2 separate regions of the Homo sapiens genome follow, and region 1 is linked to region 2. Evidence: fine-mapped expression QTL. A gene starts in region 2. The other region holds a variant in brackets. All regions are shown on one strand. Distances are from middle to middle. Region 1 overlaps FGF12 (fibroblast growth factor 12). Region 2 holds the start of ATP13A5-AS1 (ATP13A5 antisense RNA 1).

Region 1 (2,928 bases), 930 kb after region 2:
TGCAATTAATAACTAAGTCAAGACAATTTTACATCTTCACAAACTAGTCACTGGCATCTCTTGACTGGCCGTGTTGTTACTTTCTCACTTGTCTCCCTGCTCATCCTCCTATCTGTTCTCTCGTTATCAGTCTCTACTGAGCTTTTAAAATACAGATTAGATATCATTCTTATGCTTAAAACTTTTCAATGACTTGCCATTACTCCTCATAAAAGTGAAAAGTTTTAAATATAGGCATTCATTTTACAGGGTAATTTACATTCAAATTTAATAATTATATATTTTGGGGTAATACAACTTATTAAAGGGAAATGATGAATATACCTTATATAATTATGAATTATGACTGTCACACAATTTTAATTTATTTAGAACCAATCTCTTTTGTTTGATTACTTGCTCTATATTATAGCAAAGGAAGGAAAAAACATGTTATTGCTTGGGTAAACCAGCTGTTTTGTGTGACTGACTTTGTTTTTTATACCAACGTATTTTTTTTTTATTGCTATAGGTAATAGAGAAGACCACACTAAGAATTGGTAAGCGAAGAAAGGCCATTATTCTAGGACAAAGGTAGATAAAATCAAAGGCTACATTTGTGCAATGGTGTTTAGGTTTTATGGCTATATATTTGAAGTTCTACACCATTGGCAAAATGGGTACAGGGTGATCAGCCTGAGTGTAGATGGACTATAGCATAGCATTTGATTGATGTACAAGCTCAATAAAAAGTGTTATGCTAGGCCGGGCGCGGTGGCTCACACCTGTAATCCCAGTACTTTGAGAGTCTGAGGTGAGTGGATCACGTGGTCGAGATCGAGACCATCCTGGCTAACACGGGGAAACCACTTCTCTACGAAAAATACAAAAAATTAGCTGGGCGTGTTGGCACATGCCTGTAGTCCCAGCTACTCAGGAGGCTGAGGCAGGAGAATGGCTTGAACCCGGAAGGTGGAGGTTGCAGTGGGCTGAGATCGCAGCACTGCACTCCAGCTTGGGTGACAGAGCGAGACTCCATCTCAAAAAAGAAAAAAAAAAAAAGTGTTATGCTAGTCTACATAACACTCCCTATATGTCCTATGTGTCTGACTTTTTCCATTCAGAATTTCCCAAATGACCCTTGCTTTCACACTGCTTCTTCCGCCTTGCTCTGTAACATTCTGAATGATCTGAACTCCTCTTTGGGCCACTGTCCAGACTCTTGGTCTCTGAACTCCACACTTTCAGTTGTTTAAATTCACCAAAAAAATTCACCAAAAAGT[C/T]GTTTCTGACTTTGAACCTTTTCTTTTACTTCTGTCCTTGTGTGGAGTGTTATTATTTTTTACTCCTCATTTTTTCTGACACGTACTCACTTCCTCTAGCTAATTCCTTCTTTTTCTTTACACTCATCTTCAATGTTCTATCCTGAGGGAGCCATTTTTGACGCCCTAGGGTTTGGTGAGGTTTATCCTCCATAGCAGCCAGGACTCCTTCAGAACACTTCTCATATTTGTAATTATAATAACTGATTGTGGCATTATTTATTTAGTTTCTTTCTGACAAGAGGGTCAATTTCACGAGGACACTAGCCATACCGCCTTGTTCATAGTTGTGTTCCTTGGCGTGGTATCAAGACCAGGGTATTGGTGGAAGGAAAGATCAAGGTTAGGATGGAAGGAATGAAGGCAGGCAGGCAGTAGGTTTAGGATATAATTTTTGCTTGCACCTTATTTGGTGCGTATTTTTCAGAATGTACGTGGTCTTTGATTACCTGTACCTTGTTGTTATCAGTATTAACAAAGTCTTCAAGATCATTGTTGCTTTGTATAATAGATGGTCGGGTGCTGTTTGGAGAAATGTGTCTGTCAAGATGTCCAACCACCTAGGTCTGTGCTGTATAATATGGTAGCCACTAGCAACATGTGGCTTTTGAGCACTTGAAAGTGGCTAGTTGAACTGAGATATACTGTGATTGCAAAATACACAGTGTGTTTTGAAGACTTAGCATGAAGAAAATGAATGTATGATATTGCAATAATTTCTATATTCACTACTAATTTGGGATACATTATGTTAAATAGAACAAGTCATTAAATATATACTATATATAAATAGAATACTGTATATAAATATATACTCTATATAAATAGAATATACACTTTCACCTGTATATTGTGCTTGTTTAAAAATGAGTACTAGAAATGTTTTAAAATACTTACGTGGGGTTTGCATTATATTACTGTTGGATAGTACTGGCCTAGGCATGAAACTCAGCATTCTTTCCCTTGCTATTAGATCCAAGGGAGAGAAAGCCATTCTGGTGAAATGAGGTGACTATTGTCAACAATGTGCTATGAAATCTAACAAGTTGTACTCTACTTTTTATTGGACAATCAGGGGCAGGTTTTTCTGATTTTGCCTTACTATCTTGCTATCAGAAATTAGAATTTCTGTACATAAACACTATTTCTGAAATAACATAATTGTTACCATTTGATAGTGTTTTATGGTGTAGAGCATTTATTTATAGTTAGATTATTTTTTCTCTCTCATGAACTTATACTCTATTAGCCACCATCTATACTTTCTTTGCTAGATTCTAGAATGTGGTTTGTTATGTTTTCATTCAGGCAAATGAAAGTTGGTAAGGTTTCAAGCTTTGAAATAAGCCTGGAAATTTTTCCAATGAGATAGAAAATGTTGAAATCAACCATAAATTATCTCACAACCAATATTAAGTCTAGAACTCTGAATTTTAAGAAGACACCAGTCCATTAAGCAAACAGATGAAATATGCTTTGCCTAAAGGTTTATCTGCAGTGCAGTAAATTGTAATTCTTAATGAGACAAGGAAGGGAAACTTGGACACCTGGAACTGAAACTAGACATCATCTATTTAATTATTAGTGGATATTAATTATTACTGCCTAAAGTTGGATCTGATTTAGT
Region 2 (2,928 bases):
ATAGGGAAGTCTTACAAACTGCCTATTAACTTCCAGAATGCCTGAGGCTGGGTAAGTAACCAGTGACTAAATGACTATTTCATTCACATGATCATTACATGATATTGCTGAAGAAAGTAATTTTACCTTTTTCAAATGCCTGAGAAATTTTGCCAACTAAAATGCCTAACTTTGAAAAGCCATATTCCCCTTAAAAAATGAATTCAGGAAGACACACACTGCCTCAGAATGAGCTGTCTTCTCAACATCCCAATCTTCCTCCTCATGCCTTTGTCATTGGCAATGTGCATAAGGCTGTCTGCATTCTCTTTCTGAATTCAGGGAATACTAGAAGATGATAAGATTCTTGATGTGATATAGAGACTAAATATGTGCTTTAAGCCTGAAAGAAGGAGCCATTTTTCAACAATTGTGGGTAGTCATGACATGAACATATATAGCATGATTATTTTCATCTACACAGCCCAGTATCGGATTGAACCATAGGGGTGTGCCTACATTTGACTTTTTTTTGTTTTTGAGACAGAGTCTCGCTTTGTTGCCCAGGCTGGAGTGCAGCGGTGCAATATCGGCTCACCGCAGCCTCCGCTTCCAAGGTTCAAGCAATCCCCCTGCCTCAGCCTCCCAAGTAGCTGAGATTACAGGAGCACACCACCATGCCCAGCTGATTTTTTCTATCTTTAGTAGAGATGGGGTTTCACTGTGTTGGCTAGGCTGGTCTCGAACTCCTGACCTCAAGATCCGCCTGCCTCAGCCTCCCAAAATGCTGGGATTACAGGTGTGAGCCACCGTGCCTGGCCACATTTAATTAACTGTTTTTGACCTATAAAAGTGGTTGTTTCTTATGCATTAACTAATAATAACGAAACGCTAACAAAACTTTATTTTTTCTCCTTATTGATTTCATAACTCTGTTTTTAGAAAAATGCAGCTAAGTCTTTAAGAATATTGTCATTTATCAATACTTATAATGTATAACTTATAATAGAAGGCAGGCAGTGTCTTACATCTGAAACTCCTTTTCTTTGGCAGCCGTATTAATTTTTACTCTTCTATTTGTATTGTGCTTGCACACCAAACTGATATAGATGGAAAACATATCTTATTTTCACCCTGACATGCATCAAAAATATGAATATATGTCTCTAGTTATATCTGTTAAACTGTTTTTGAAATTTCTCATCCTGGTATTTGAGCTGTAAATGCTCAGCAACAGTCAGTGACTAAAATGCAGCTGGATTGGGTTATGATCTCTGCATTAGGTTGTGTGGGAAGTGCTCTGCTCATGACTGCATACTCTTAAGCTTGGCCTTGGTGCGTATCATCAAGCAGGACTTCTTTTAAAGTGTGCAATCACTGTTTTGCCGATGTCCTTGGTTATATCACTACCATTTCAATGTGATTGATTGAAACAACTTAAATAACGCAACTGCCTTTTCCCTCTGGGAATATGTCTCTCCAAACCATTTTTCTTCAGCCTGATTCCAGGTGTGTTCAGGGGACACACACATACACACAAATCACATGTGACTTAGTTATGATGGAAAATATTCAAGTGAGCTGTTCATTTTTCTTACCTATTAATCCTTCTTCTCCTGTCTCCCGCAGTTATTATGTGGGCATGTGTGGAGATGGAGCTAACGACTGTGGGGTGAGTAGAAATGGCTTTTGCTCAGACAAGCCACTCACTAATATCCCTCTGGAGGACCTCAGGCTCTCCTGGGGTTTGTCTCTTCATCCTTCCACCAGCAACCATTTGATTATTTTGCTGTTTATATCCACCTCTACCTGAGTGTGGGTTGGAAGCGGAGGGGAGTAAAGGGAGATGAGACACTTCCGATGCTTTCTGGAAACTCCTAGAATAATAAACACAAAGGAAGGCTACTTAGACTCCCATATTTCAGGTTCCAAAGATGGAACTTTACAAGTCTATCTGCTTTAAATCTTTCCTGTTATCAGTAATGAAATGATTTCTCAAGGAGGTGATTTCTTCCCCCCTCCCAAGGTCACACAACTGATAAAGACTCAATGAAACGAAGTTTGAAACTGATGATTAAAGTTTTGAATTATATGTAAATTATATTTATTCCTGCCAAACTTTCATTCTCTGGTTAGTTTTTAAGTTTGCTTCACCCAGAACTCTTTCACTCAGTAAAATCCTAGACCAAACTATTTAGTTATTTTATGCTATAGAAAAAGCTAAATAAAATGATTATCAGCAAATTATTTTTCATATGCAGTAGAAGGGCAGTGAATGTTTTATATTCTGAGTTTTAAAGACATGAAGGAAACAAATAGTCTACCTTCAAGATTATGTACTTAAGGAAATATTTCAGTAGCTGATTTATGGGACAAGAAGTGAGGAAGATTTCTTTGTATTTCCAAAGCTTATTAGAGATTTAAGATCTTGGTATTTGTTTTATTTCTCTCTTAAATATTATTTCCAAATTTCTGTGAAAACTGTGTTTATAGCTAGAAATTTTTATAGCTAGAGATGTTTTTTGCTTTATGTTTCATGAGAAAAAGCTAATTTTTAGTCTGTTCTTTCAAATCTAGAATACGTATCCTCTCACATTAATTATGTGGCGTTTAGAATAAAACAAAAAAATCAAATGCAAAAAGGGACATAGTCTCTGCCTCCTAAAGAGTTCATTGTCTGATGAAGAAAGAATCATGAATAAAACTAACCCTAACATAAAGTAGATGGTCCTAAAGTACATAATAGAGATACGAACTAGAGATCAAAGAGGAAGAAGAAAATGTCCTATTATTTATTAAACCTGAATCTAGTATGTACTCATGGCGCCAGGTACTCTGTAGTTCTGTGGAACTACAGATATATAAAAGTTCATTTTATGCCCACACAATTCTTATAGGATCGGCCTAGGAATTCTTTCACCTTTGTTCATGAAGATTCCCACCAGGTAC

The links. PIP is the estimated chance that this variant, and not a neighbour inherited with it, causes the effect. A credible set is the group of variants that fine-mapping cannot tell apart.
Region 1: its variant is the best candidate, but not a certain one, in a credible set for the expression of ATP13A5-AS1 in testis (GTEx, PIP 0.64).

Annotation. Positions count from the first base shown.
Region 1 is chr3:192,380,108-192,383,035 of GRCh38, reverse strand. The region is part of intron 2 of FGF12 (fibroblast growth factor 12); the gene reads left to right. Among named protein-coding and RNA genes, the nearest start is that of FGF12-AS2, 130 kb to the left of the region's middle. The variant C/T (reference allele first, on the strand shown) is at 1,263.
Region 2 is chr3:193,306,050-193,308,977 of GRCh38, reverse strand. ATP13A5-AS1 (ATP13A5 antisense RNA 1) reads right to left here and starts at 1,734. Exons shown (of 2, transcript NR_046758.1): 1 at 1,578-1,734. It overlaps ATP13A5 (ATPase 13A5), which reads left to right. Exons shown (of 30, transcript NM_198505.4): 22 at 1,609-1,651.